4 linked regions of the Homo sapiens genome follow. The protein of the gene in region 4 interacts with the protein of the main gene of each other region in a pairwise test. Each region holds a gene or a part of one and is shown on either strand. Other genes may lie near its edges.

Region 1 (7,942 bases), on a different chromosome or scaffold from region 4:
TCTACTCACCAAAGAAATTCAGAATGAAAAGGCAAGCCACCAGGAGAAAATATAAAAACTCTTGCATGTTAACTGAAAAGAAAAAGAATCCCGGCGGGGTGCAGTGGCTCATGCCTGTAATCCCTGCACTTTGGAAGGCCAAGGCAGGCAGATCACTTGAGCTCAGGAGTCTGAGACCAGCCTGGACAACATGGCAAAACCCATTTCTACAAAAAAAGCAAAAAAATTTAGCCAGGCGCAGTAGCGGGCACCTAGTCCCAGCTACTCAGGAGGCTGAGGTGGGAAGATCTCTTGAGCTCGAGAGGTGGAGGTTGCAGTAGGCTGTGATCCCGCCACTGCATTCCAGCCTGGGCAATGGGAGTGAAACCCTGTCCCCCCACCAAAAAACATCTGCCCAAAGGAAAAATGGGGCAAACAATTTGAATTAACAACGGCTGAGTACCCCGAGGAAACGCAAAAGGCCAATAAATAAATGAAAAAGTGTCCAACATTATGAGACATCAGAGAAATGTAAACTAAAACCACAAGGGGCCGGGCGTGGTGGCTCACGCCTGTAATCCCAGCACTTTGGAAGGCCGAGGCGGGTGGATCACCTGAGCTCAGGAGTTCGAGACCAGCCTGACCAACATGGAGAAACCCTGTCTCTACTAAAAATACAAAATTAGCTGGGCATGGTGGCCCATGCCTGTAATCCCAGCTACTCAGGACGCTGAGGCAGGAGAATCGTTTGAACCCGGGAGGTGGAGGTTGCGGTGAGCCGAGATCAAGCCATTGCACTCCAGCCTGGGCAACAAGAGTGAAACTCCGTCCCAATAAAATAAAGTAAAATAAAATAAAACCACAAGGAAATTCTGGGAAGACAGTAGTAGTAACAGCAGAATAGTCTTTGAATCTCCTCAAATTCTTACATAGTAACAGAAAAAATTCCATGGACAACAGTTACAAAAAAACTAGACAAGAAAGAATCTCCACAAACACCAAATTACTATAAACACAAGATTTAAATGTGCTTCTTGCTGTGTCACCCAGGCTGGAGTGCAGTGGTGCGATCTCGGCTTACTGCAACTTCCATCTCCCAGGTTTAAGCGATTCAATCCTTTCCTTCCTCTCTGAGAAAATCTCAATTTTCTTTGCCTTCCTGGGAGAAACCACTGTGCCTCAGAGGCAGTAAGCCCCAGATCGGGGCTTCTCATTAAATGTCTACAAAGAGTTAATAGTCAAATAATATCAGCATTTTCTCAACTTATAGAATGTGAAGTTATAGATACTATCAAAATATACAGATATCAAAACCAGGTTAGCAAAGTTTTACAACAGAAATTTCTAGCATTGATAACTGAAAAAAGATATTCCTTTTTTTTTTTTTTTTTTTGAGACAGAGTTTCGCTCTTGTCATCCAGGCTAGAGTGCAATGGCACGATCTCGGCTCACTGCAACCCTCTGCATCCCGGGTTCAAGCAATTCTCCTGCCTCACCCTCCCGAGTAGCTGGGATTACAGGCATGCGCCACCATGTCTGGCTAATTTTTGTATTTTTTAGTAGACACAGGGTTTCACCATGTTGGCCAGGCTAGTCTCGAACTACTGACCTCTGGTGATCCACACGCCTCAGCCTCCCACAGTGGTGGGATTACAGGCATGAGCCACCATGCCTGGCCCCAGGTATTCCCACTTTTAAAACTGACATATATCAGCGTAAGTTTGGGTCTCTCATTTGAAATAATGATATTGATGTTATTAATAAGTAGCATGGTATTTAAAAGAACAGCTCTGGTATCAAATTTGAACTGCATCTAATCAAGTCCTTTTTTTTCCCCAAATAAGATTTTTTTTTTTTTTGAGACAGAGTCTCCCACTGTCACCTGGGCTGGAGTGCAGTGGTGCAATCTCAGCTCACTGCAACCTCCACCTCCTGGGTTCAAGCGATTCTTCTGCCTCAACCTCCAGAATAGCTGGGATTAAGGGTGCCCGCCACCAAACAAGCTAGTTTTTTGTATTTTTAGTAGAGACAATGTTTCACCATGTTGGCCAGGCTGGTTTCAAACTCCTGACCTCGTGATTTCCCCGCCTTGGTCTCCCAAAGTGCTGAGATTACAGGAGTGAGCCACCACACCCAGCCAGATTTTTAAAAAGTATTTTGAACACTATTTTCAAGCCAAATTTTGAGACGGAATCTTGCTTTGTCACCCAGGCTGGAGTGCAGTGGCACGATCTCAGCTCACTGCAACCTCCGTCTCCCAGGTTCAAGCGATTCTCCTGCCTCAGCCTCCCTGAGTAGCTGGGACGACACATGCGTGCCACCATGCTGGTTAATTTTTGTATTTTTAGTAGAGAAGTGGTTTTGTCATGTTGGCCAGGCTGATCTTGAACTCCTGACTTCAGTGATCTGCCTGCCTCAGCCTCCCAAAGTCCTGGGATAACAGGCGAGTCACCGTGCCTGGCCCCAAGCCAAATTTCTTATTTTTTCTTTGACCACAACTGGCTTCCTTCAATTTTACACTGAAAATCAAAGGGAGATGTGAGTCATTTTTACAGCTAATTTAGTTGAAATGTCAGGCTTGTAGTTAAGCAGACTGCTAGTAACGGTTCAAAAAATTCCTCATGAGTGGCACACCAGTGGCCCCAACCTGTGAGAAGAAAAGAATTCTGATGATGGAATTTCTACTCTTAACTAAATGTAAGTCTCTGTATCAGGTCATTTAACTCTCTGACACTCAAGTCTTTTAATCTGGGCTTCGGATAATACTGCCTATGTTTAAATCTTGGTTTCCCATTTAGTCAATCGGTGGCTCCAGATAAATTGTTCAATCTCCTAGGCCAATTTCCTCATTTGTAAAATGAGAATACAGTTGTTTTAAAATTAGTTGCGGGTAGGTAGAGTGGCATGTGCCCAAGTCCCAGCTTTACTGTGGTTGCTGAAGCAAGAGAATCCTTTGAGCCCAGGAGTTCAATGCTGCAAGTAAGCTATGATAGCACCATTGCACTCCAGCATAGGCGGCAGAGGGAGAACCTACCTCCAAAAAAATTCATTAATTTTAAAAAATAAAAACTTTTTAAAAACTAAATCAGTTGAATTACATGAAGTTTTAGCACAGTGCCTGATATATACTAAGTGTGACATTGTGCTATTTTTATTAACTGTTACCTGCGAAACAGAAAAATCAAAATAGCTATTCTTACATTACAAGGCTATGTTGAAAAATGAGAAGCCACTTTGTATATGGTAAATACCATCAAAATAGCTGCATTGTAATCACAAGTACACAGGAAATGCAGTGCTTATTAATAAAATACAGTTCAAGGGGGGAAAAAATCTTTATTTTCCCATTCCAAGTTACTTTTTTTTTTTTTATTGAGACGAAGTTTTGCTCTTGTTGCCCAGGCTGGAGTGCAATGGTGCAATCTCAGTTCACTGCAACATCCCCTCCAGAGTTCAAGTGATTCTCCTGTCTCAGCCTCCCAAGTTACAGGCATGTTGCCACCATGCCCAGCTAATTTTATATTTTTAGTAGAGATGAGGTTTCGCCATCTTAGGTTGGTCTTGAAATGCCGACCTCAGGTGATCCACCCCCCCGACACTCACCAAAGTGGTGAGATTACAGTCGTAAGTCACTGTGCCTGGCCTCTTTTCTTACTTATAGTTGTATTTCCAATGCCTAGCACAGTTGTTGAACGAGTGGCTCCAAAAACTTCTTCCTCTGTCAAAGACTGGAGCTGTTATTCACCATGGCCATAGAACCAGAGTCAGGAAACATGGCCTAGGCAACAACAATTAGGATTTTCTTCAGTTATCAAGTATTGCCCATTACAGAAAATATGGGAAACAAAGGAAGTCAGGAAGAAAAGAGAATCGCTCACGGTTCTCTCACCCAATTTTCTGGTTTTCAAAATCTCACCTTCACTTCCTCGTGACCAGAATGCTTGAGGCTGTCTTCTACAAATCATTTTTTTCTCCTTGTTCTATTCATGCTGCTTCTCCATTTTTCCTTATGTATATGCTCCTAAACTACTACTGTATGATCCTAGGGCTCTGTAGTGCCCCTGGCTCTCCAGAATACTTCCTGTAAATATGCCTGCCACTTCTGCAACAGATTTGGGGGTCACTAAAGACTTTCAAATTTAATGAGTTAATCCCTTTGACTTCCCAGCAAAAAGTGGGCAAAGCAGGCCAGGTGCAGTGGCTCACACCTGTAATCCCAAAACTTTGAGAGGCCGAGGTGAGTGGATTATTTGAGGTCAGGAGTTCAAGACCAGCCTGGCCAACACGGTAAAACCTGTCTCTACTAAAAATACAAAAACTAGCCAGGCGTGGTTGCAGGCACCTGTAGTCCCAGCTACTCGGGAGGCTGAGGCAGGAGAAATGCTTGAACCCGGGATGCAAAGCTTGCAGTGAGCCTAGAATGCGCCACTGCACTCCTGCCTGGGTGACAGAGCGAGATTCCATCTCAAAAAAAAAAAGAAAAAGTGGGCAAAGCAGAGCTAGGCACAGGCTGGAAGAAGATGACATGCCCGTGTCACACCAGGCCTCCACAATACCTCTTCCCAGCATGTTTTTAAAAATGTCTATAAACGATTGTTTTTCATTCAAATACCAGTTGCTCATCCTAACCATTCTTTGGATATCCATCCTTTTGTAAGTCTGTACTAATACAATTAATATTAAATCAATACAGAAAAAGTTTACTGTTAGCTCTCCATATCCATATGTGAAAGCTGTGGATATGGAGAGCTGACTGTACTGCTACAGCATTTTATGTAACAAGAATTGGTTATGCATCATCGGGAATACATCAAAACAAACTCTCAAATGGATTTTGTCTCAAAGAACTCAGAGTCCCATCAATCAGAGAATAAAGTCACTAGTGTAATAAAGAGACTATAGCCGGGCACGGTGGCTCAAGCCTGTAATCCCAGCACTTTGGGAGGCCAAGGCGGGCGGATCACGAGGTCAGGAGACGGAGACCATCCTGGCTAACACGGTGAAACCCCGTCTCTACTTAAAAAAAAAAAAAAGCACAAAAAAATTAGCCAGGCGTGGTGGCGGGCGCCTGTAGTCCTAGCTACTCAGGAGGCTGAGGCAGGAGAATGGCGAGAACCCGGGAGGCGGAGCTTGCAGTGAGCTAAGATCGGGCCACTGCACTCTAGCCTGGGCGACAGAGCAAGACTCCGTCTCAAAAAAAAAAAAAAAAAAAAGACTATAGGGGAAGGGCAGGTAGTCAGTGAAGGTTTCACAGGAATAGCCATATCAAGCTAAAGTGAGAGACGTGTCAGATCTGGGTTTATCCTTTAAAAGCACAGCAGCCCCTGACTCTACTAAAAAAATACAAAAATTAGCTGGGTGTGGTGGCTCATGCCTGTAATCCCTGTTACTCTGGAGGCTGAGGCACAAGAATGGCTTGAACCTGGGAGGAGGAGGTTGCAGTGAGCTGATATTGTGCCACTGCACTCCAGCCTGTGCGACAGAGGGAGACTCTGTCCAAAAAAAAAAAAAAAAAAGAGAGAGAGAAAAAGAGAGAGAGAGAGAAAAAAAGAAAGAAAGAAAGAAAAAGAAAGTGAAAGAAAGGAAGAGAAAGAGCGAGTGAGCACAACAGCTTTCACTTAGGGCTCCTGGGCCCAGAGTCATCAGGTAAAAAGTCTGAATACCCTGCTGAGAGATCACACAGAAAGACCTGACACTACACGTGGAGGGAAAGAGCCAGTGGAGCCCGGCCTTCCAGCAGTCTTTGACAAGGCATGTGAACGAAGAAGACATTGTGGAAGCGGATGCTCCAGCACTGGCCACCTCTGCTGACAACATGTCGACCAGAGAAAAATGGCCCAGGTGAGCACTTCTCAATTCTCCTGATTCATAAAACTGTCAACAAACAAAATTATTCTATGAAGCAGTAAGTATTAGGGTGGTTTGTTATACATCAACAGATAACTGAAACAGAGCTCAGATTTTATTTTCTAGCCAATGGGAAGCAATGCAATGACAGCTGTGCTTTAGAAAAATCAACCTGGCTGCAATGTGTAAGATGGCATGTAGGAGACAACCGGTGCCAGGAAACAAGAGCCAACAGTACCTAGGGGGAGGAGAAGAATACAAGACACTGACTGCAGAGTTAGAGTCGATGGGATCTGTGTATGTCACTGGCCATCAGGGCAAGAAGAAAGGAATCAAAGTTGACCTAGACGCTGAGATCAGGTGACCACAGGATGGTGATGCTATTAAGGAAGAACAAAGCAGATGATGAGTTCAGAGAAAGAAAACGAAAATTGTGTTAACTTTAATATGTGGACAAAATATGGTAAAATAACATCCATCATTATGGATATAAATATGCAAACAATTAGTCTAGAGTTTAACAGCTCTAAGAATCCTATTATCTGTGTATTTTTACAATAGGAAAGGTTTTAAATCAAAAATTAAACTCAAAATCTTCAGTGGGCGGGCTAAACAATTTAACATAAAACATCAAGATTTTCTTCAACTGTCCAATGAAAATTAGTTTAGAAACTAGGACAGATAAGTAAGTACATCCTCATGTGTGGAGGGTAAAATCAACGTTTTCAACGATCTTTTTAGAACTGAATCTTCTGTGACCAAAGGACATGCTTCTGCTTCTAGCCCAAGTACTGCCTTGCAGGCTCCATCCCTTGACATGTTTTCATACGGCATTTGAGTTATTTCTTTTAAACCACAAATCTCACCATGGTGAAACCGAAATCCTTACCATGGCCTACAAAACGCTACCATCACCTGACCTTGCTGACATAGCGGGCCTTACCTCATACCTTTTCCCCCCGCATTCACCATTCAGTAGTAACAATGGTTCAGTTCCATGACTTGCTCCTTCCTTCCACTGCAGGCTCTTCCCCAGCTAAACTACTCTTCTTCACTGCCTCTTGGACCAAATTAACTCTATTCATTGTTCGGTTCTTTGCTTTCTCCTCAGAGAAAAATTGTTCCTGATTATCCCCTAGATGTTCCTCCCTGGTTCAATCACACAACGTACCTCATTTCTTCAAAGTACTTCCAACAATACTTTAATATACTTATTTAGGAAACTATGTGTAATTTTGGTCTCCTCTGCTAAAACTTAAGTTCCAAGAAGGCAGAACCAAAGTGTCACTTGATCCCAAAGCCCCAGGACATAGCATATCGGATGGCACAGTAGATGATCTTCAATAGTAGATGTACTTTCAGAATAAATAGCACTCACTAATTATAGAAGGATAATTAGTGGCATGAACTCTGGGTCCAAACTGAGTTCAAGTTCCACGCTGACCCTTACAAGTTTTGGGACTAGATATTTTTCAGCACCTCAGTTTCTTTTTTTAAAATTATTATTATTTTTGAGACGGAGTCTCGCTCTGTCACCCAGGCTGGAGTGCAGTGGCACAATCTCGGATCACTGCAACCTCCGCCTCCCGAGTTCATGTGATTCTCCTGCCTCAGCCTCCCCAGTAGCTGGGATTACAGGCGCACGCCATCACACCTGGCTAATTTTTGTATTTTTAGTAGAGACGGGGTTTCACCATGTTGGCCAGGCTGGTCTCGAACTCCTGACCTTAGGTGATCTGCCCGCCTCGGCCTCCCAAAGTGCTGGGATTACGGGCGTGAGCCACACCATTCCCAACTATGTTCTATTATCTTTAACAATAATGCAAATATAATGATATCAGGTATGAGAATGAATTATGTCTCTAAAGAGCTAGAATATAGCAATGCCTAGAATTTTGTAAACACATTAAATAGTAGCTGGTAGTAGAATCAGCAAATACCAGCTCTCTCAACTATCCTATTCATCAACTTTCGATCTGCCTCACTCACACCTAACCCTTCTTTATCAGATTTCTCCACAGGGGCTTCAGGAGTTCTCTTTTATTAGCTGCTGCTGCTCTAATCAGGGTAAAAATCTAAAGCCTCGAATGAGGTTTGCCAGGGGGTCCAAAATCTG
Region 2 (8,556 bases), on a different chromosome or scaffold from region 4:
AGGGGCCAAACATCGGACGAGCTAGACGGCAAAGTATTGACAGAAGAGGTCTGTTTACACCGAATACATGAGTTAAAAGTCCAGCAGACAAAAAAGGGATACAAACTACGTAATTCCTCACATCTTTTCCAGCCTCAACTTCCCCGAATCCAAGGCCGGCCATGGTGGCTCACACCTGTAATCCCAGCACTTTGGGAGGCCAAGATAGGTGGATCACTTGAAGTCAGGAGTTCGAGATCAGCCTGGCCAGCATGGCAAAACCCTATCTCTACTAAAAATACAAAAATTAGCCGGGCATGGTGGCACACGCCTGTAGTCCCAGCTACTCGGGAGGTTAGGCAGGAGAATCACTTGAACCCAGGAGGCAGAGGTTTGCAGTGAGCCAAGATTGCGCCACTGCACTCCAGCCTGGGTGACAGCGTGAGACGCCATCTCAAAAAAAAAAAAATTCCCCAAATCCAAGCCCTTTGACTTCTCCAAGGCTCAGGGTCACCAGGTATACATGTCATAAAATGACAACAATCGTGGTCCTTCACACCCCTATACACCAGAGAGAAAGGTTATGGGGAACAGTGAGAACCGCCAGAAAACTTAGAAAATTTTAATGTACTTTCCAAAAGTATGACAAGGACAATTCCATGCATAAAAATCTCATAGTACTTCAGTTCACAACCGAAAGTTGCCGCTCCTCCTAATTAAAGTTAAAAAAAAAAAAAGTCCGAAAACTTTTCAACTTTTGCAGGACTCTTATCAGAATCCCAATTCTTGGGAAATCCTCCGCTCATTATGGAAGAGGGTTAGTGATAACAGAGAATTTCTACAAAGGTTGGGTCATTTTTCAAGGCTGCATACACGATGCTAGATATTATCACTTGAAAGTTTTACATTTCTTCACACCTCGAGTGCTTGGCCCAACACACACTGCTGGAAGTTTTCCACAGAGCTCTCCATCTGGCCAGCTCAGGCTTCAGAGAGGCAAAAAGCCTCTGTAAACCAGGGAAACTTGGTACATCCCACAAGACAATCCGAACTGGCTCCTGGTCCGGGGACTTGTGGGACGCAGTCCTGAATCATGCCTTACAGTAACTTACACTTTACCAAAATCTTTAATAACCAGTATCTCATTCCCTGCTTACAAAAGAATAGCCCAGTGAGACTGGTAAAGATGACTAGCCCAATTTTAAAACCAGGGAAATAAATAAGCTTTTAAAATGTAAAAGTAAAAATACAGATAAATAAAAGATTTAGGCCGGGAGTGTTGGCTCACGCCTGTAATCCCAGCACTTTGGGAGGCCGAGGTGGGCGGATCACATGAGGTCAGGAGTTCGAGACCAGCCTGGCCAACGTGGCGAAATCCCGTCTCTACTAAAAATACAAAGATTAGCCGGGCGTGGTGGATGGCGTGCGCCTGTAATCCCAGCTACTCCGGAGGCTGAGGCAGGAGAATCGCTTGAACCCAGGAGGCGGAGGTTTCGGTGAGCCGAGATCGTGCCACTGCACTCTAGCCTGGGTGACAGAGACTCCGTCTCAAAAAAATAAATAAATAAAAAATTTAAAAGTTTAGGTGCGCTTCCCCAACACAATCACTTGTCCCAAAAACAAGCACCGAACAAGTACCATTCAGAAGCAAATTGTAGTCCCTTTTGATGTTCATTTAAATACAGATGAAAACTTAATTATCAATGCTAACTCAATCACTGCTGTGCCAGATTCAGCATAAGATTTTGTCAGCACCTAAAATTCTGTATCTAGAGCTACAAGAGGCACGTTTTCTGCCAAATCTTCGTTATATTACATAATGAGAGGAAGCTTGGATTCTTAAAATTCACCTTTTCCCATCATTTTAACACCCTGTTCCAATCCCTTCTTTCACAGGATATTTTCTGGAGGTGAAAAGGAATAACTCATTACTTCTCATATTTTCCTGCCCACTTTCTTGCATAAATATTAAAAATAAAGGGGAAGGTAGGGTCCTGAACATCTCCCTAAAAGATAAAAAAGTTATTAAATGTGGTAAACAGAGCCTGGAGACCTAGCTTCTAGTTCTGCACTGACACAGTATCACTGCGTGACCTTGGGCAAATTACTGCAGTTCTGGGCCTCAGTTTCCCTCATCTGAACCCTAATGATGGTTAAGCCCTCTCCGCTCTTAAAGCACAGATTTTAGATACGTCCCCAGGGAAGCACAACTGTGAAGGAGTCGCCCAGACGGACTCCTTGGGCGGAGAAACGGCCTTCCACAAGCTCCGGCGGGGGGATTCACAGGGAGCTCAAGCTGCCCCAGGGAAAGCCACTGGGCAAACTTCAGGTCGCAAACAAAAACCTGTTGGCACCGACTCCTCTAGCAAAGGCCAGCCTCCCAACGCGCTCGGCTCTCGGCTCTAGGGGAGCCGCCCCACAGGGAGAGAGAGGAAGTCTCTCCTGGAAGAGGCCAGACCCCACGCACCCATTCACCCACCCGGATCAGCCGAGCAGGACCGCCGGGCCGGGTGGGTCTCTGCCATCCCACGCGGAACAAAAGGCAGCTGGAGCCTGGCTCTTCCGCCCCCGTCCCCGCTGTTCCGTGGGAGTGGGGGCTGGGGAGTGGGGAGCCTGGTCCCCAAGGACGGAAGGGGGCCCTGCTACAGCCCCCAGGAAAGGTGAGACGGGCGGGATCCCGGACAGAGATAAGGACCCCTCCCCCGATTCCCGGAGGGCGCCCGGACCGGGCTCTGCACGGGGGCTGGCGGGAGACCAGGCTGGGCTCAGGAGGAAGGGGCGCCGGGCTCGGGGAGAGGAGGAACGTGCTCTGGGGAGGGGGCGGGGTTGTTCCAAGATGAACGGGGCTCCAGGATCCGAGGTAGGAGTAAGGGGCGCCCTGGACTCTGGGGACATAAAAGGAGATGCTCGGTGATAGGGACGGGTAAGGGGGGAGATCCTTGCAGCGGAAAGCTGGATCCAGATGGGAAGGGGGCCATGCTCCAGTCCGTGGGGCGGGGCCTGGTTGGAAAGAAGGGGATCCCCCAGAGCCTGGCGTAGGGACCAGCGGGGCGGCAGGGGCGCATGCCCTGGCGGGGCTGGTGAGGTAGGGGAGCCTGTGCTCTGGGGGCGTCCGCGCCCTGGAGAGGGGGAGGGTCCTCGCCCCGGGGACTCGCTCTGGCCTTGGAGCCCCACGGGCTGTGGCTCACCTCTGCTCCTCCGGGCCGGCGTGGGTGCGCCGCTGCGGCCACCGGCAGCGCTCGAGAGGCGGGAGCGACCGTAGCCCGCGGAGCCGCCGCCACCGCCGCGTCTGGCTCAGTTTGACACCCACACACCAGCCAACATGGCGGCCGGGAGGGGGCGCGCCGGACGCGTGCGCGCGCCCTCAGGCCCCGCCCCCGAGGCCCCGAGGTCCCGCCCCCACGCCCGCAGACCACGCCCCTGCGACCCCGCCAGAGCCCCTCCCTAGTGGCCCCTGCGCGGCTTCCCCTCCGCCTCCTGCGCTCCAGGACCCCACGCGGACGACCCACCCTTCCGCAGCGCCCCACAGTCGACGCCCGAGCCCCCAAAAAACCCCCAATCCCGAGCGCCACACAAACCCTGGCAAATTAATACCCGAACGCGCGCACTCTAATCCCCTTCAGGCCACTCCACCCCGTACACACTCACGGCCCCCCCACACTCACGGCCGGGCAGCACGCGCAGACCCCGCCCCGTCAAGCAGAAACTCACGCTCCGGCCTGCCGGTTTCACTCAAAAACCTTGTTCAGTAGGAGAGACTGGAAGGGGGCCAGGGCCTGCCGGGCGCTGGTAGGGTTGGGTTCTTAGGCTACAAGTGTGTTCACTTTATGAAGATGCGCGGAAGTACACTTTGGATTTGTGCGCTTTTCCGTGCGTGTATTTCACGTCAATAAAATATACTCAAAAACGGAGAAGTCTCTAGGCTTCTTTAGGCTGCTCAAGGGGTTACCTAAGGGCACGAATGGCAAGGGGTTACCTACATGGCACGAAAACGGAAACCCTTGACTGGCGGGCACCCACAAAGCACCTCCTCTGTGCCAAGCCCTGTGCTGGGCACAGAAATGAGACAGCCCCAAATGCCTCGAATGAGAGTCCCGGAACTGGAGGGGCCAGAACTGGAGGCTGCACCTCAAAGCTGACTAACCTGCTCCAATCAGGGTGGGAGTCAGCAGAGACTTCTCACAGCAGGGGCGCGGAGCATGAGTCAGGGCTTGCTAGGTGGGCAGAGGGCACCATCCCTGTTGCCTGGGTGACATCAACACTCTGCCTAGCCTTGGCTTCAGGGAAGCTGTGGCCAGAAGTCTTCCTCTGCCCTAACTCACTGAGGGACCTTAAACAAGTCACTGTACTTCTCTGAGCCTCAGATTCCTCCTCCCTGTACAGGAACCAGGGGATGAAAGTATCCCTTAAGGTTCTAACAACCCAGGATCTGGAATTCCATTCTCTGGCAAAAAAAAAAAAGGTTGTATCTTTCCAGGAATTCATCTATTTATTGTAAGTTTTTTAGTGTGTGTGCATAGACGTGTTCATAATAGTTTTTGAGGGCTTTTTTGTGTTTGTATGGGGTCGGTGGTAATGTCCTCTTTGCCCTTTCTGATTATGTTTACTTGTATCTTCTCTTTTTTCTTTATTAGTCTAGCTAGTGATACAATAAATACGATAAAAATGGAGAGAGCTTGTAACACGTTTGCAAAACCACATAGCCACTTTTCCTTTGAAAAGTCAAACACTGGTAGCTCTAGATGCTAGAAACACTCTCCAGTTAACCACCCTTCCCACTGCTTGGTGCCCCTTCTCCACCAGCAGAGGGAATTATGCCCTATGTGCCTGCCTTGCAGCAGAAGCCGGAGCTCCCCGTTTTGAACTTGGTCCACCCTCATCCCAGAGAATGCCCTCAACCAGTCCAACATTCCTTGTGAGCCTCACCTCTTTACCCCATCTCCAAGGAAAGCAGAACTTTACACTGCAATCATGCTTCTGCCCTGAGTTTACAATGTCAGATGAGTTATAACACAGAGCTGATGCACAGCACGGGCGTGATGCTTCTAAATCAGCACTGTTCAGCAGAATTTCCCTCCACGATGGAAATGTTCTTTCTGCGTGCTGTCCGTAGGATAGCTACGAGTCACAGGAGGCCAGCGAGCACTTGAAATGTGGCTAGTGAGACTGAGGGGCTGAATTTTTTAAACTTCATTAAACTTTTATTAATTTAAATGTAAATAGCCATATGTGGCTAGATGCTACCATGCTGACCAGTGCTGGTCTAAAACCTTACCACAATTCCACAAGTGCACATTCTTTTTTTATTTATTTGTTTTGAGACGGAGTCTCACTCTATTGCCCAGGCTGAAATGCAATGGCACAATCTCAGCTCACTGCAACCTCCATCTCCCAGGTTCAAGTGATTCTCCTGCCTCAGCCTCCCACGTGGCTGGGATTACAGGCCCGCACCCCCACACCTGGCTAATTTTTGTATTTTTAGTAGAGACAGGGTTTCACCATGTTGGCCAGGCTGGTCTCGAACTCCTGACCTCGTGATCCTCCCGCCTCAGCCTCCCAAAGTGTTGGGATTACAGGTGTGAGCCACCGTGCCCAGCAAGGTGCACATTCTTGCTGTTCACATTTTACAGACAAGAAATTGAGGTTTGGAGATATGCTGGGGCTTGGCCACCCAGGCCCACTTTTCCATATGCAGAGCCTAATACTCCCTTCACTACCCACCTAGCAAGTGTGTGTAGCCGCACAGATAATATGCAAGCCTGGAAAGAGAACTGGATACAGATAATGAGATGATGAGCTAACCTACAGGACAGGAAGTGAGTTGGAGAATACCAGATTAGCCCAGGCTTGGGAAGTGGAGGAGGGTGTCCTGAGGCCGGAAGACCGCCACGTGCAAGGTCAGAGGGGACATTCTTGCATTCCTCAAAGTCATTTCTCTTTCCTGGACCCCCTCCTTGAAGCGTATCAGCCCCCTGGCATTCCTCTCTCAATTCATCCTCATGATGATCCCTTGACGTCAGCAGCCCTATTCCTATTTTAGATGCGGAAACTGAGGCAGCATGTGGCAGGGCTAGGATTCAATTCCAGGTTCTATGAGTCTAGAGCACATAAGCAGTCTTGCAGAGGAACTTGCAGGATAAGCTGAACAATTTCATCCGTGCCCAAAGCAGTCCATGGAAAACAGGGCTGGAGGAGACACTCTCATCTGCCCTTGCAGAGGTTTGGAGGTTGGTTCCAGGTGGATAATGGAGCAGACTGATGGGGGCCGGTTGGAGAGGTGTATTTCAGAAGAAAGAGCTGGCAGTGCAGGCCAGGGGTGTCTCTGGGGTTAGGGAAGGAGGGTTTCAAGCAGGAAGGGACTTTGGGGGAAAGACTGGCAGGCAGCAGACAGGGACAGACTGCATGCTGAATGAAAAGAATCACTTAGCACAGGTGCAGAACAGGCTCCCCGGGATCTTCACCAAAGGCTTGAACTCTATATTCAAAACTATTTGTCCCACAAAAAGAAACTTGTGTTGGCAATCCAGAAACACCTAATTTCTTGTCCACCGACTTGCTGCTTGACCATGACGTCACTGCCCCTCCCTGGACCTCAGTTTCCCCATCTGTGAAGTGGGAATAATAACCCCTCCCACTCCCTAGGATTGCATTCTGGCTCAGGTGAAAAGGCAGAGGAGGAAATGCTTTGGAAACTGTAAATGCACTGGATGGGTGTTGATGGCAGTTCTCTTATTAAGGACATTGAAAAGAATGGAGCCATCCTTTCCCTTCTAGGGGTTGAAAGTCTAGGACAGAGAAGTTTTGAGTTTGGGCAGCATGAACATGAGCAGAAACCAAATGCCACATAGACAATCAAGAGAAAGAGCTATGACAGCTCTCACAGGAGGAAGTTTCCTTCTAGCCCATGGGGAAGGAAGGACCTGTGCCAACATCCTGGAAGTGCAGGTGCTGGAGAAAGGAACTAGTAACAATGACAACAAAGTAGTGAGCATTGTGCAAATGTTTTGCATGCAGTACCTCATTTCCTCTTCATAAAAAACCCTAAGAGGTAGAGACTACCGTTATCCTTATTTTACAGCTGAGGTTCAGAAAGCTTCCATTATTTGCCCAAGATAACACAGCTAAAAAGTGGTAACCCTGGAAAACCCAAGCCTAAACTCCAAAGCTAAACTTTTTTTCTTTGTTTTTTGAGACGAAGTTTCGTTCTTGTTGCCCAGGCTGGAGTGCAGTGGCGCGGAGTTCACCGCAACCTCCGCCTCCCAGGTTCAAGCAATTTTCCTACCTTAGCCTCCCAAGTAGCTGGAATTACAGACATGTGCCACCACACCTGGCTAATTTTTGTATTTCTAAATTTATTTATTTATTTATTTATTTAAGATGGAGTCTCACTCTGTTGCCCAGGCTAGAGTCCAGTGGCGCAATCTCGGCTCATTGCACCCTCCGCCTCCCTGGTTCAAGCGATTCTCCTGAGTAGCTGGGATTACAGGCATGTGCCACCATGCCCAGCTAATTTTGGTATTTTTTTAGTAGACACGCCGTTTCACCATGTTGGTCAGCCTGGTCTCGAACTCCTGACCTCAAATGATCCGCCTGCCTTGGCCTCCCAAAGTGATGGGATTACAGGCATGTGCCACCATGCCCAGCTAATTTTGGTATTTTTTTAGTAGACACGTGGTTTCACCATGTTGGTCAGCCTGGTCTCCAACTCCTGACCTCAGATGATCCGCCTGCCTTGGCCTCCCAAAGTGATGGGATTACAGGCATGAGCCACTGCACCCGGCCCTTCTATTTTTTTAGAGACGGGGTTTCACCATGTTGGCCAGGCTGGTCCTGAACACCTGAACTCAGGTGATCTGTCCACCTTGGCCTCCCAAAGTGCTGGGATTACAGGAGTGAGCCACCATGCCCAGCCTTTTGTGTGTGTGTGTGTGTGTGTATGTGTGTGAGAGAGAGACCGGGTCTTGTTCTGTCACCCAGGCTAGAGTGCAGTGGCACAATCATGGTTCACTGCATCCTCAATCTCCTAGGCTCAAACAATCCTCCTACCTCAGCCTCCCAAGTAGCTGGGACTACACCACACCTGGCTATTTTTTCCAATTTTTTTGTAGAGACAGGATCACATAATGTTGCCCAGGCTGGTCTCAAACTCCTGGAGTTGATCCCCCTGCCTCAGCCACCCACTCAAAGTGCTGAGATTACAGGGATGAGCCACCATGCCTAAAACTAAACTCTTGGGAAGAATCTGAATAGGCTGAAGGGAGCGACTCCTTCTCCCTTCCAGCTCTGAGCCTGAGTCAATCAGAGCTTTCTCTCCCTGGTCAGTGATTAGTTCAGGAATGGGCACCTGACTCATAGCAGAGCAATGACTCTCAAGCCAAGCCTGGGACTTCTACAGAAATCATTGAAAAAAGAAGCTTCTAGGGGCCGGGGTGCAGTGGTTCATGCCTGTAATCCCAGCACTTTGGGAGGCTGAGGCGGGCAGATCACCTGAGGTTAGGAGTTTGAGACCAGCCTGGCCAATATGGTGAAACCCCGTCTTTACTAAAAATACAAAATTAGCTGGGTGTGGTGGCGTGC
Region 3 (7,942 bases), on a different chromosome or scaffold from region 4:
AATGACCACGTCATTAGAATAAAGGAACATTGCACTGGTGCTCAGTAAATGGTTATCAGTGAATGAAGGAATGAAATAAACTAATAAATGGACCTTAAGGAGATGACAAATTCTGAATTATTTGTTTTTTGAAAATAAGTTATATTCTCCAAAGCATAAATTAAGACCAATAGATGGGAAATTATTCTGCAAAGACTCGCTTCAGCTCTCAGAGCTGTCCAAAGATGACACAACTTTCCTCAGAAGCTATGGATGGGGTTGTTAGGCACGGGCTGTTTGAACACTTGACAGGGATGTGTAAAGGCAACATGAGAGAGAGCAGTCATGTGCAGCAGCAAGAAAAAAAGCCCAATCTTTACAGCTAAACAGATTTAGATTTTAATCCCTCCTCACCACTTTTTAGGTGAGTGACCTCGTGCTAGTTATTCAACTCCATCGAGGCCAGTTTCCTGCACTAAAACATCTTGCAAGGTTTTAGGGCTTAGGAAAATTTCATTTGTTCAATAAATACTTAAATTATAAGCATAGCCATTGTACTAAATAAGCTCTGGGGATTCTAAACAAGACACAGTTCCTGTCCTTAAAGAGATTAAAGTCTACTGTAACAAACAGGAAAGTTAAAATAGGCAATCATGATGCTGTACATTAAGAGTTACAACACATGCAAATGCAAAATGCTATGGGAGGACATAAGCATAGCACCTAACCCAGGGCTTACGTAAGTTTTAGGCTGGTCAGAGAAAGCTTCTTAGGAGAATTAAAATCCTAAGAATAAAAACCAAGATAGACAAAGTGAACTGCATGTGCAAAGGCCTGAAGCTGACAGAAAGTATTACATTCCTGTTTGGTATAGCAGCAGCCCAGAAGCAAGAAGCTAGAAGTAGAGTTAGAAAGGTAGGCCGGGCGCAGTGGCTCATGCCTTTAATCCCAGCACTTTGGGAGGCCAACTGAAGTCAGGAGTTTGAGACCAGCCTGGCCAACGTGGTGAAACCCCATCTCTACTAAAATACAAAAATTAGCCAGGCATGGTGGCAGGCACCTGTAATCCCAGCTACTCAGGAGGCTGAGGCAGGAGAATCCCTTGGAGGCAGGAGAATCCCTTGTACCCAGGAGGCAGAGGTTGCAGTGAGCCAAGATTGCACCAATGCACTCCAGCCTGGGTGACAGGGCGAGACTCTCTCTCAAAAAAAAGAAAGGTATACAGGGTTGGACAAAGCTAATATACTAAAACTTTATTCTAAGGACAATGATAAGGAACTAATGCGTCTTAAACATTGGACTGGCACAATCAGTCCCACGTTTAAAGTGTAATTCTGATTTTCCCAGCCCCATGTTTAAGACTGTTTAGTTCCTTACCATTGGGTACAGTGTGGAGAATAAGCTGGAGAAGGGGACACAGTGGGAGGATGGCAGCACTCTAGACCACTAACGTGGAAAACAGGATGCTAAAGTTATCTGGTGACTGGATGCAGTAGTGAAGACACTGAGTTCAAGACCAGCCTGGACAACAAAGCAAATAATTCAGAATTTGTCATCTCCTTAACGTCCATTTATTAGTTTATTAAAAATTAAAAAATAAAACAAATTTTTTTGAATTCAAGACCAGCCTTGAACCTCATAGAGTGAGACTCCATCTCAAAAAATAAAAAATAAGCCAGGTACGGTAGCTTACACCTGTAATCCCAACACTCTGGGAGGCCAAGGTGGGAGGATCACTTGAACTGAAGAATTTGGGACTAGCCTGGACAACATAGCAAGACCTCCTCACTACTAACAATAAAAAAATTAGCTGGGCAGGCATGGTACTACATCCCTGTAGTCCCAGCTACTCAGGAAGCTGAGGCAAGAGGATGACTTGAACCCAGAAGTTTGAGGTTGCATTGAGCTATGATCACACCACCTCACTCCAGCGTGGGCAAGAAAGTGAGACCCCATCTCAAAAAAATTAATTAAAGTAAAATAAAAAATAAAGAAGATTCAAAAATCACTAAGACCCAGTGGTTAATAAGGCATGTAGAATAACAACACTGTGCTTGATAAAAAGCATGTACTCAAAAAATGGTACCTGCTACTATTATTATTGTTATTGGGCATTGGATTAGATGACCTTTGAAATCACATTCATCCTTAAGAGTCTACGTTACCTTGAAGATGTATCTTGTTCTCAGAAAAGTCCTTTCCCACGATTACCAAGCTATCTTATACAAAATGATTCATTTTTTTATTCATAGACTACACCAGAACTGCTCAACTGGGCTCCACTACACACCAGTCATAGCATGAAACGTTTATTAGGTGTTCTCACAAACAGCGGTCCATGACCAAGTAAGTCTGAGTAACACCGCGTAATGTATCTTCCCTCTTGAAGGGTCATAGGCAAATAAGCACCAAGGCTCTGAATAATAATTCTGCAGTAAAGAAAGGCATTTCACTTTGGCCATTTTTTGTCAAGGATCCTCTTTTTATCCCCAAAGGACACTGATTAGCACTACACAGAACTAATGTTCAGTGGAAGAGCTTGGGAAATGCTACTCTAAACCAACTTACAAATTTTAGTGGAGTGAAAAGACTATAGGCAACTGTATTCTGATAACCTTCCAAAATGGTTAGAGTTTTACACACATTATGGCGTTTTCCTTTCTAACTTAGTACTACTGAAAATGACATTAAATACCACCATAAATAGCAATCCTTTGCCTCCTAAGTGATTGCCAACCAAGCATTCTTGGCTTCTTAAAAGGCCCCAACTTCGTCATTTCATAATGAGCAAATTCTATGCTACTTACTTTCAGGGTACAGTAATAATTTTTAAAACAGTTTAAAATGACAAGGATGTCAACTGTGCAGATAATGTGTACTTTATTAGCCCCTTCTCTCTTCTCTTTTAAAAGGAACAGATCATGCCAGTGTCAAAGGGATATATCTTCTTAACACTGGGCAAAGAATCTCAACTTCATAGAGATTACTGGACAGTTTACAGCTCTGGAGGCCAAGGGCAACAGTAATTTGGGATTGTGAAAACCTTCAGTACTTCAGATTTAAGCCAATGACATGATACAAAATATTCTATACTCTAACATCATTTCCTATGAGTCATCTCATTCCTTTTTTGGTTTTGTTTTGTTTTTTTTTGGAGACAGTCTCACCCTGTCGTCAAGGCTGGAGTGCAATAGAGGCGCGATCTCGGCTCACTGCAACCTCTGCCTCCCGGATTCAAGCGATTCTCCTGCCTCAGCCTCCCGAGTAGCTGGGGTTACAGAGGCCCACCACCACGCCCAGCTAATTTTTTGTATCTTTAGTAGAGATGGGATTTCACCATGTTGGCCAGGCTGGTCTTAAACTCCTGACCTCATGATCTGCCCGCCTCAGCCTCCCAAAGTGCTGGGATTACAGGTGTGAGCCACGGCGCCCGGCCCATCTCATTCCTCTTATTAAAACACTTTGAAACACTGCTCAAGATCACTATTTATGGTTCATACTCATGAATGTATTTAAGAATAGGACAATTATTGAATCTTATTAAGAATATACAATTGACTTTAACACTTGAACCCGGGAGGCAAAGGATATACTATTGGCTTTAAATGAAGGGTATTCAGGCTGGGCGCAGTGGAGGCTGAGGCAGGCAGATCACCTGAGGTCAGCAGTTCGTGACCAGCCTGGCCAACAAGATGAGACCCTGTCTCTACAAAATATACAAAAATTAGCCAGGTGTGGTGGCACGCACCTGTAGTCCCAAGCTACTCAGGAGGCTGAGGCAGGAGAATCGTCTGAACCCAAAAGGCAGAGGTTGCAGTGAGCCGAGGTCATGTCACTGCACTCCAGCCTGGGCGACAGAGCAAGACTCCAGCAAATAAATAAATGAATGAATGGCATTCATTTAAATAGGACACCTTATATATAGTACCTTGAACGTGAATTTTTTTTTTTTTTTCAAAGAGGGAATCCCGTTCTGTCACCCAGGCTGGAGTGCAGGGGCATGATCTCAGCTCACTGCAGCCTCCGCCTCTGGGTTCGAGCGATTCTCCTGCCTCAGCCTCCTGAGTAGCTGGGACTACAGGTGCCTGCCACCATGCCTGGCTAATTTTTGTATTTTTAGTAGAAACGGAGTTTCACCATATTGGCCAGGCTGGTCACAAACTCTTGACTTCAGGTGATCTGCCAGCCTCGTCCTCCCAAAGTGCTGGGATTACAGGCGTGAGCCACTGTGCCTGACCAGACATGGATATTTCAACCTTTATTTTAAACGTATTCTACTGGAAACATTCAAATGCAAAGATTAGACTCTAGTTCCACTCTTTAAACTACAAGTTTATACAATAGAAAGCTCTCATGAAGTACTGGATGTAGAAGTAATCTATCTGGAGATCTGAAAATAACAAAATGGAAAATACAACTCCAATACTGAAAATGAGTACAGGTGCTGTCTCACTGCTATCAGGTACATCACTGCTAACACATGGAGAAGTGTGGGAAGGGTGCAACAATTCCTGCAACCTAGCAAAATTTTCTGCAGGCAGAGAGATTTTTCCTGAACCATTCCACAATACTGTCTAACTGCTTACTTCAAAGAAAACGTTACTCAAGTGACTACAAATCACACAAACCAAACCAACGGTCCTACTTCAACTGATAATTTGTACAGTTAGAAAAATTTTAAATGACTATAATGGAAATCTCTCCTTCTGGTCAGAATGAAAACACCAGTTGTTCCGAATTTAATCATCATTGCTATTTGTCAAATATGAAGAAGTTTTCATCGCATCGCAATCATTACCACTCAACACTTGGGGATGAACAAAAGAGATCAGGAAACAATCTTTCCCTGAAACAAATGATCCTACTACTTTGTGCATTCAAAAGTAAGACTGACCTCACACTGGTCCACTGAAAATCAGCTCCTAAACCACAACAGCACAACTAAATTAGGTTACTTCATGTCAAGTGGTTGCTCTCCCATTTGGAAATCTTACTGTATATTGCAGAGCAGACAATTACAAAAGGCCTCACCCCTCCTCATCAAGGAAGCTGTAACGGGCTGAAAGGACAGATTTCATGCTGTTCCAAAATGAAAATGTGTTCTCCCACTTATTAAGGTCCACTAAGTGATAGGCATCTACCACACGCTATTATATTCATTTCTCATAATTACCCTACAGGTAGGTATTATTGTCGTTATTTTACAGAAGAAGAAACAAGTTAAGAACCTGCTCCAGCACAGAGGGTAAATGCACTGCAGAGACAGAACTCTTCCCTTGGTCTGACTCCAATCAGCAACTAATACTGTCCTCTCCCATAGGCACTTTTTGGCCAAAGTTTTAAAAATCCATTTCCTCCTGCAATTAATCTACTTACATTATATTGAGTGCTTTGAGTCTCTGCAGGAAAACACTAAAATGACCTTGTAGCCTTCCTAAACTGTGACAGTGCATGCATGAAAAACTGAATAAACAAAATGAAAAGAAAGACTGTAAGACATCAGATAACTCACAACCAGTTTCCTCTGAGAACAAGAAACAGAATGGAAAAGAACAACTTACTGGCAAAGGAATATTCTTCCTGGTTGTATGCCTGAGGCCAGGATTGACCTTAAGAAGGTCATTTGTGACCCTAGTAATGTCCTCTGCCATTCTCATTCCGGTGAATGAAGTAAACCTGTCACTTAAAGTCATCTCTGCCATCAAGTCAATGCGTCCACAGGAGAGGCAATGCTATCCAGTGGAATGAGCACCTATCTGGAAATCCAGTGATCTGGGCAAGATTTGGCTCTGCCCTTGCATAGCCAAGTGACCCTGTCAAGGTCATCTCACTCTTTTGGAGCCTCAGTACAAAGGACACGCCTGAAAGAACTGAAGTTCGCTTCCTGAGCTAAGAAGCCAGGACTTTTTTTCTTTTCCCATAACATTCTATGGTGTCAACACAGTGTTTAAGAGTAAGGGCTTCATTTACATAAGAATTAAGAATTACAAATCTGTGGCTGAGCACTGTGGCTAACACCTGTAATCCCACCACTTCAGGAGGCCGAAGAGGGCGGATCACGAGGTCAGGAGTTTGAGACCAGCCTGGCCAACACAGTGAAACCCCGTCTCTACTAAAAATACAAAAAATTAGCCAGGCATGGTGGCGGGCGTCTATAATCCCAGCTACTCAGGAGGCTGAGGCAAGAGAATCGCTTGAACCTGGGAGGCAGAGGTTGCAGTGAGCCAAGATCGCGCCATTGCACTCCAGTCTGGGGAAACAGTGCGAGACTCTATCTCAAAAAAAAAAAAAAAACAGAATTACAAATCCGTGTCTGAATCTGGGCTCTGCTACTTACTGGCTGTGAGAACTTAAGCAAATTACTTTTCAGTTTCCTCACACGTAAAAATGAGGGTGGCTATATTATCTACCTCATAGTGTATGAGAATAAATATACATAATACATTTATATCCCAGCTGGTACAATGTAAGCAAGCACTCAATAAAAGTAGTAACTATATTATCCCTGTGTTTGATTCACAGATCCTAGTGGCTCAGTACTTTTGAACTAAAAGATATAAATTTCAAAATTACCTCAAAAAGACACCCAGCATAGCCTGGCTGGGCACGGTGGCTCACGCCTATAATCCCAGCACTTTGGGAGGCCGAGGTGGGTGGATCACCTGAGGTCAGGAGTTGAAGACCAGCCTGGCTAACATGGTGGAAGCCCGTGTCTACTAAAAATACAAAAATTAGCTGGGTGTTGTGGTGCACACCTGTAATCCCAGCTACTCGGGAGGCTGAGGCAGGAGAATCGCTTGAACCCGGGAGACAGAGGTTGCAGTAAGCCAAGATCACACCACTGCAACTCCAGCCTGAGTGACAGAGTAAAACTCTCAAAAAACAAAACAAAACAAAACCCAAAACAAGACTCCCAGCATAGCTCCATAGCACAGAATGGGTTTAGCCCATATATGTTTACAATTCTGTGGTATGAATCCTCATTTCGCTTTGCCTTCATTTCTCTGAAAATAAAAGGGGATAAAAATGCCTTGTAAAATCTTCTCTAGTACAGTTTTGGGATTTTTATTTATTTTTTGGGAGACTGAGTCTCGCTGTGTTGCCCAGACTGGAGGGCAGTGACACAATCTCAGCTCACTGCAACCTCTACCTCCCGGGTTCCAGCAATTCTCCTGCCTCAGTCTTCCGAGTAGCTGGGATTACAGGCGCCCACCACCATGCCAGGCTAATTTTTGTAATTTTGTTTCATCATGTGTGCGAGGCTGGTCTCAAACTCCTGACTTCAAATACCACCTGCCTCAGCCTCCCAAAACGCTGGGATTAGAGGCGTGAGCCACTGCGCCCAGTCTCTAGTAGTTCTGACCAAAGAAAAAAATGTGTAAGTATAAATGAGATAACAGATTTGTCATAAGAATTAAATAAGATGCCATGAACACAGCCTATAAAGTATAAATCTTAGTATGATTTCTGCCTGAAGAAAAAGCTGAGGTTCACAAGTTTTCAACATAAACTCAGATCTACTGAGATTTCCTGAGAGTTCAAGATTTCTAGAGTGGTCAATTCCAGATCTTAACAAGGTGGCCATGGGTATAAGGGGCTAACATGGAATGAAGGTGGTCACCAATGTTGAAGGGCAGGTTGCTCCAGAAATGCCTGCTGAAAAAAAAAAGGTGTACATATACACTCATTTTTATCACCTTGTCTAGTCTTACTAAAAACGAAACTAAGTTATAGATCTACAGCATTCTTCATATTTGGTTAACTTGATGACTGAGCCAAATGAGGCTGAAATGACCAATGTACAAAATACATGGCAAACCCTATTTTCACTTGTAGCTTTGCCTCTATCTTCCACAGTGAAACGTTATTGTAAACAAAAATGAGGGAGGGCTTCACCTAAGCACATCAAGACATAAAGCAATTAAGATTTCCAACTCACTGGTCTCCTCTCAAACCCTGATTT
Region 4 (7,942 bases):
AAACCAAGCCAATCCGTCCCTAGGTAAATTTTTGTAAGCAAGGTGCCCACTAGGTAGGAAGGCTGCATTTAATGCTAATTTACTGTAAGGTCTAGGGAAGTCCTTTCCGCTTCTCTGGGCCTCAGTTTCCTCATCTGCCAAATAGGGAAATGGATGAGATGATTGCTAAGGTCCCTTCAGTTCCATGAGTCTATGAAATGTTTATTGCTATTGCTTTTCCTTCACTATCCTCACCTTCAGAGCTGCCAGCACCCACCTGGAATGTGGTTCCTTCACTTGGGCCATGAATGGCACAGGTAACCAAGAGCTTGGCCTGCCTGCAAGCTCTATGGTCAGACAGGTGAGTCCTGGCACTGGGAAGGGCAAAAGAAAAGGGAGAGAAATGCCCTAGGTTCCCACTCCAATCAGGAGGAAGCTCCTCATCAGAGTGGGTCCATGACAGCTCAGAGGCTGAAGTCTGGATGACACAGGGCATCCGGCCTTCCAAGGCCTCGGGATGCTGGGATCCTACCACCCTGCAGCCGCTTGGCAGGTCTAAGGACAAAATCACCTTTTGAGGAAGTGCCAGGTCAGTTAACATCACTGTGCAAATCAGAAGGTCCAGGGCCAGATGCTTTGGCCAGAGACCTTTCAAACCAAAGCCATGAGGCAAGCACCGCTCCTCCCTTCTTCCCTCTCCTTCCCCACAATGCCCTCCCTCCCCCCACCCTCCCCCAAATTCTAAAGACTTTTTTCCCCAGGTTCTCAGCCTGGGGTATTAAGCTGCTAATAACACGCCTACATACTCAGGTGGTTTTGTTCTTGGTCTGTTGCAATGGTTCTCAGGAGACATTTCATTTGTGTCTGGGACATGGGAATGTCCTGAACTAATCTTGCTTAAGAAAAAACAACCAGAACACTCCCCTAGAGATGTAGCCTGCTCAACAGCTCTGAGTTCCTACCCTGGACCACATCTGTTTATGCTCTTCAAATGGAATCCAGCCTTCAGATGAACCACTGCAATAAACCCTACTCTCTGCTTGCCTCTAGACTGGGATCCCCAGGGACAGGACACTTAGGGAAGAGCAGAGAGGACATGGCCTGGTCAGGTAGGAGGAAGGGGATAGAGCTGGAAGGGCAGGGGCTAAGAGGGGGACAGTTGGGGAGAGGCAGGAGATTAGAAAAAGCAGCTTTTACAAAAACCAAAAATAAAAATCAAAACCATTAAAGATGCATAAAGTGACCCTTGCACTTCCGTTGTCTCTTCTTGCAAATAGAGGTGGTGCTGCTAGGGAACTGCTCCAGCACCGGTGTAAGACTTGAGTAGTTGCATACAATGTGTGACTCCAGATCTGCAGAGGGAAAGGGGAAAGAAACAGTGTCAGTGATATTCAGGAGGCTTCTCCCCTCAACTCGGGAGCCCGCTGTGCCTTCCTAGTGAAGCTGCCTGCCTCCCGCCTGTGGAAGTTGTTGTGCTCTGGTGCCAAGAGCCCTGGAGGAGATGGGGGAGGCCAGATGATGTGGGGGGCCAGAGGATTTCAAAGTGACATCCCTGGAGCCCTATGGTTCACTGTCACTGCCTCAGGAGCTGCTGAGGGGACCAAGGAAGCCAGAGGTCTGGGTCAGCCCAAAGCCTCCAAATAGCTCCAACCAAAGCTCTTAACATATGATCTGGGCAAGAGTTCATTTGAAGAATGGGGCCCATAGTTAAAAGAAGTCCGAAGACCATAAGGTAAATGGCACAGAATTTAGTACTAGAGAACTGAAGTTTAAGCCCTAGCTTAATTTTTACTGGCTAAGTGATATTTAACTACATATTTATCTGTAAAATAGAGCTAATGATCCTTATTTCACAGAGCAACTATAAGGATTATGAGATAACATAAGCAAAGGGATAGCTATTATTATTTCTGTTATTATTTAGATTTCAACAAGCAGTCAACAGAAGTGATAGCTATTATTAAGAGTGATATTATGGACCTTGGAGCAGGAAAGCAACTGGTAACTTGACAGCTGTTACCTGCCCTAGCTGACACCTGTGCTCCAGACCCAAACCAGGGACTTTGAGGCAGTTCCTGTATGTATCCCCCTCCCACTTCTCTCACCCTGGCCACACTCACTTGGATGGGCTGCAGGCTTTACCAGTGTGGGGGCACGTAGCTGTACGCAGGGGTTCCTTGGGCCCTATATGTTGGCATGGAGACAGGGTGTGCCCCAATCGCCGTGTGCTGGGGTGTAGTCAGCAGGGTACCTGAGCATCCAGAGAGAGAAGAGTAACCTGACGAGGCTGCACCAGACACAGGAATGAAGAGGATGAAGCTACAGTCTTTCACATGGCTGCTCCCTCTGCCCAAATCCCCCATCTCCCTCGCCTTCCTGATGACCTGTTTTCTGCCCTTCTCCACCTCACCAGGCTTCACCTCCTTAGGGGAATTTTTTCTGATGCTTGAGGACAGAATCAATGACTATTCTAAGTCCTCCTTTTCCTTTTTTCTTTGAGACGGAGTCTCGCTCTGTCGCCCAGGCTGGAGTGCAATGGCGCGATCTCAGCTCACTGCAGCCTCTGCCTCCTGAGTTCAAGCGATTCTCCCGCGTCAGCCTCCTGGGCAGCTGGGATTACAGGTGCCCATCACCACACTCGGCTGATTTTTTATTTTTACTAGAGATGGGGTTTCACCATGTTGGCCAGGCTGGTCTCGAACTCCTGACCTCAAGTGATCCGCCCACCTCGGCCTCCCAAAATGCTGGGATTACAGGCATGAGGCACCACGCCCGGCCTTCCTTTTACTTTTCTTTGTATGCTTCTCTTATTGCACAATCATACTGAGTAGTAATTGTGATGTCTGTGGCTGTGTTTCCCACACTAACCTGGGTGTTCCTTAAGGACAGTGTTCTGATCTGATCTATTGATATTGGGTTCCCAGGACCTGAACAAGGCTGGCACTGAGTAGATATCCAACAGTTTGCCAACTTGATCTGAGGAGTAAGAGGCCTCAACCATACCCTTACGTTAGGGACAGAATAAAATCCAAATGCTCACTCTACCCCTTGTACTTTCTTACCTCAGATGGTATCCTAGCTGGTTCTTTAAAAGTTGGGTCTCTAGGCTAGGCATAATGGCTTATATCTGTTACCCCAGTATTTGGGAGTCTGAGGTGGGTGGATCCCTTGAGCCCAAGAGTTCAAGACCAGCCTGTGCAACATGGTGAAACCCTGCCTCCACAAAAAAACACAAAAATTAGCTGGGTGTAGTGGCGCATGCCTGTGGTCCCAGCTACTTGGGAGGCTGAGGTGGGAAGATCACTTGAGCCCAAGCAGATCAAGACTGCAGTAGGCCAAGATCGTGCCACTGCACTCCAGCCTGGGTGACAAAGCAAGACCCTGTCTCAAAAAAAAAAAAAAAAAACCTAACAGTCCTTGGGGACTTCTGCTTTTGTCATCCCTCATAATTATTATAATTATTGCACAGGTCCTTAAGCTCCTGCCTAATAAAGAACATTGCCCCTGTGTCTTCTTTTTTGGCGCCCCTGCTGTTACTGGAGTGCTAGCATCATCTCTCTCCCCTAAAGTACACTGACAGCCTCCTCACTGACCTACTTGCTTCCAGATCACCCCTTCTAATCCTGTCTCCACTCTGCAGCCAGAGAATGTTTAAACCTAACCACATCCCTGCCCTGCTTGACCCCCATTGTGTGCAACAGAGGTACCACAAGGTATTCAGGACTTTCCACCATCTTATCCTTGCTAGCGATCCAGCCACCTTCCAACTCCAAGCCCCTATTTCCGAAGGGCCTTGGCTCCATTCCTCCATTCTGTGAACATGCCATGTTCATGTTCTTTCTGCACCACCCTTCCCTCTTTCACTTCTCTAGTTAGCCTGTGTTCACCCTTTAAGGCCTAGCTCGATACGTCCTTCTTGGTGAAATCTTCCTCATCCCCATAGACAGATTTAGAGGCTCCTTCCTCTGGGTTCCCAAGCCCCCTGGCACAGGATCTCTTGTGCTGTGCTGCAGCCAATTCTATGACTGTGTTCTCTGCTCCGTTTTGAGTTCCTAGAGGAAAGGGATGGACACTGATGCAGATGCTGCCCTCACCTGCTGACATTGCCATGGTGGTGCCTGCCACCATGCCCATGGCCACACCGTTGGTCCTCGGGGCGGCAACAGGTGCTGGGTAGATAGCAGAGGGAATGCTGTTGGGCTGGACGACCGTGGTATGGTGGATGACATGAGGCTGGGCAGCATACACCGGCTGTGTGTAGTAGGCTCCCTGGGGGAAAGAGGCTGAGGTCACATAGGCATTTGGAGAGGTAGGTGGGATATGGAGAGAGCAGCACTGGCTGAAGGACACAAGGTCCGGACCCCAGCTGGGGCTCTGCTTGTCTTACTATGTGACTGTGGTCAGTGCAGTGCTGGGCTCAGCTTCTGGTCTGAAAAATAAGGCTCTAATCCTGTCCTGCCTTGCTCATAAGGCTGCTATGATGATCTAATGGGATAAGAGCTCTACTCCCTTAACCTTGGTTTTAGCATTTTAAAATGTTTTATCTTACTGCAATGAACTTTTATAAGCTGCCTAAAATTTAAAGTTAGGAATAACAATCAATCAGTTACCAAGCATGTGAACAGGGCTGGTAAACTCCAGAACACATACACAAAAGGATAATTAGTAGTAGTATCATAATGGTGTAAGTGCATGTTGTAAAAAAAAAAAGTACATGTTGAAAAAAAATGGCGGCTGGACACAGTGGCTCACGTCTGTAGTTCCAGCACTTTGGAGGCCAAGGCAGGCAGATCACTTGAGGTCAGGAGTTCGAGACCAGCCCGACCAGCATGGTGAAACCCCATCTCTACTAAAAATACAAAACAATGAGCCAGGCATGGTGGCACATGCCTGTGGTCCCAGCTACCTGGGAGGCTGAGGCAGGAGAATGGCTTGAACCCGGGAGGCGGAGGTTGCAGTGAGCTGAGATCACGCCACTGCACTCCAGCCTGGGTGACAGAGCAAGACTCCGTCTCAAGAAAAAAGAAAAAAAAAAAAAGGCATACATGGATAGCATTTTCCAGGATGTCTCTTAACTAGCTATTTCCCTTTAGGTAAAAAGGTAAGGATGAAGAAGACAGTGGTCCAAGGTGACTCCCAATGCCTGAATCACATGGCTGCTTCCTGCTGCCACAATCCACTGGCCCACTGACTTGTAGGGGAAGTAAACAGGAGCCCCTGAGATCATCTTAATTCAGAAATCTTCAAATGTTTCTACTAAATGAGATTAAAAAAAATAAAACAAGAGGCTTGAGATCAATTTAAGTTTTGTCTTCTACTCTAAAATATAGCTGTTTTTTAAACTAAAAAAGTATTCTCCTCACCACTTATGTTTCCTATAGAGTCACTCCAGAAGAATGTGTCATGGGTGTGCTAGAGCCCCATATGGTCCCCTCTCTCATACCAATCCTGGAATGCATACATCTTCTAGCTGAAGGAGCCCAGAAAGGCCCATCAGGCACAGAAAGAGAGGGTAACTTGTCCAAGGTCACAGAGGATACTGGTGGCAGGGCCTGTGTACTTTCCTCCTCCCCACTCAGCTCACAGACTGAGGAAGGGTAGATGTGGGGGTTAGGGAGAAAAGACTAAGACGTTGGGGTCTCACCTTGACCAACCAATAGCTCGTGGTGTAACCTTGGACAAGTCATTCCCCTCTTTGGGTCTCAGTTTCCTCACTTGTTTAACAAAGGAGTTGAGCTAGAAAATCTCTGAGGGCCTTTGTCCTCTGACATTCTGGGCTCTGTTAATCTAAATGACTTCATGCCTACCCCCTCTAGGGGCTGAGGTGGAGTGAGGGAGTAAGCAGACTGCAGGGATATTGCTTCAGTGATACAACAAGGACGGCTAGCCAGAGCCACAAACCATCCTCTCCTTCCCTCACTTCCTCACCCTACCCCACCACACTGCACCCAGGCTGAAGGCTCCTCTACCTGCAGAAGAGGTGGCTTTGACATGTACCTACCTGGGCATACAGATTCTGCTGGGGGTAGGCACTTCTGATTGGATACATGGCCGTCTGATAGGGGTTGGGTGATGGGGAGTAGGGGGGTGGAGCAGTGTTACTCTGGGTCGGTGGGACCTTGTATGGTGTCCCCGCAGTATATCCTGTACCAAGGCAATAAGAGAGACTTCCAGTTAGTTGGCAGAAAAGCATTGCTAGAAGGCAGCAGGTCCCAGTCACGACTCCCCAGACAAAGATGGGCTGAATCCAGGCTGGAAACAGAGATGAGAACAAACAGAGAACAGGGCTCCACCCAGAAAGCCCTGGCCCCAGAGGCAGCTCCCTCAGTCCTGGTGCACAGGGCTGCATGGATGATTCTGGGCATCTTTTCTTTCTCTGGGTCTCAGGGCTCTCATCTATAAAATAAGAGGCTAGAACCACATGGTCCCTTTTAGCTCTGACAGCCTGGGATTTGGAGCTGTCTGTGTGAAATGGGCAGGTGCACAGAGATGGAAACCCTCAACTCACTTGCTCTTTATTGCTACTCTACTTGCTTTTCTGTCTTCTCACACAGAATCCAGGGTATCTTTTTGCTGCTGTTTCTGTCTTTCTCTCTTTTGCTCTATTTCTTTTTCTCCTTATCTCTCTCTCTCTCACTCTCTTCTTGGACTTCCCTCCATCATGTTCCCTCCCCTCCCCACCAAGTTTGAAGGTGAAAACCCCATACAAAACACCATTCGGAGACCCTCATCTTCTGGGATGCTGACCATACAAAACACCATTCGGAGACCCTCATCTTCTGGGATGCTGACCATACAAAACACCATTCAGAGATCGTCATCTTCTAGGATGCTGAAAAACTTTGCTCTGCAGAGTTGGCTCCTCCTTCTCTCCTGGGCTCTAGGGGAAGGCCACCTCTGCCTGAAAATACCTGAAGTCAGGGATCACAAAGATTCACATCAACCTGGAACCTGGGCCATGTCTGTCCCTCAGCAGGATGGACAAAAGCTGGAGCTAAGAATGGGGCTGAGAAGTCAGGCCCCAAGAAGCTCACAATTGCCCATGTAAATAAACTGTGCTGCCTTTTAATCCTCCGGAAAAGAGTGACAGATCCTTTGTTCACAGAAAAAAACTTGAAACATGAGTCATTCAGGAACAACACTGTCTCCTTTTAGAATCACAAAATGGAATCGTTCTACGGAACCCAAGTGATCATCAAGGGACTCCAATCCTTGGACTTTACACAAGGGGATCCTGGGCTCAGAAAAGGCAAGTCTTTTTAATAACTTCTCCTAAAGACTCTAAACTCTTCTAAGTTGAAGGGACAGTGCCTGAGGACCTAGGCTTTGAAGCCCTGCTGGGGAGGTGCTGAGGTGGCTTCTTTCCTGTGGTTCCATCTTGGGTAAGTCTAGCAGACCTCACTGAACCTCTCTGGGCTTCAGCTCTTTCACCTATAAGATGCTCACCAAGGACCCTTTCAGCTCCGAGGTGCTGTTTCTATCATATAATAAGGGACTAGGGGCAGAGTGGAGGGAGTGCTTTATTGGAAGAGAAGACATCTAGTCTTCAGTCCTGGCTTTCCCCCTAATTTTTCATGACAATTGTCAAGTCTTTGGGCCTTAGTTTCTTATTTTGTAAAATCAGGTGGCTAAGAATGAAGATCTCTTCCTAAACAAAAATTCCATGGTTCTAAAGATCCTGGGTCTCTTCTACCTTAACCCCAAGTAAAAGCAAACTACCACATGGTCACAAATCTTTCTCAGTCCACATCACACCTCTTTGGCTTAGCACCCCCCTGCCCCTGATGACTCAGGAGGATAGGAGAGCTGCTGCACAGCTGCCACAAAAGTCAGCCTGTTCCTGGATTCACGTCATTTATTTTTTCACCTGCAGATCCATAGTTTTTTCCATAGTTTTGTGATCAAATATGCTTGGGAAATAAGTAACAATGAGGATAGAATGGAAAGTACATATGAAAGAGAG

What was found.
Region 1: the proteins of FAM168A (region 4) and RNF216 interact in binary tests that used the Homo sapiens proteins (3 or more experiments, as listed by UniProt).
Region 2: the proteins of FAM168A (region 4) and EPN2 interact in binary tests that used the Homo sapiens proteins (3 or more experiments, as listed by UniProt).
Region 3: the proteins of FAM168A (region 4) and NFYC interact in binary tests that used the Homo sapiens proteins (3 or more experiments, as listed by UniProt).

What each region holds. Positions count from the first base shown.
Region 1 is NC_000007.14:5,771,423-5,779,364, forward strand, and holds part of RNF216 (E3 ubiquitin-protein ligase RNF216), read right to left. Parts: intron 7,242-7,942; exon of another isoform or gene 6,065-7,241; intron 1-6,064.
Region 2 is NC_000017.11:19,232,143-19,240,698, reverse strand, and holds the start of EPN2 (epsin-2), read right to left. Parts: upstream 3,334-8,556; 5' UTR 3,168-3,333; intron 1-3,167. UniProt on the Homo sapiens protein: Plays a role in the formation of clathrin-coated invaginations and endocytosis.
Region 3 is NC_000001.11:40,694,356-40,702,297, reverse strand, and holds part of NFYC (nuclear transcription factor Y subunit gamma), read right to left. Parts: intron 6,693-7,942; exon of another isoform or gene 6,553-6,692; intron 1-6,552. UniProt on the Homo sapiens protein: Component of the sequence-specific heterotrimeric transcription factor (NF-Y) which specifically recognizes a 5'-CCAAT-3' box motif found in the promoters of its target genes.
Region 4 is NC_000011.10:73,405,414-73,413,355, forward strand, and holds part of FAM168A (protein FAM168A), read right to left. Parts: intron 6,124-7,942; coding exon 5,981-6,123; intron 4,249-5,980; coding exon 4,074-4,248; intron 2,231-4,073; coding exon 2,118-2,230; 3' UTR 2,100-2,117; intron 1,332-2,099; 3' UTR 1-1,331.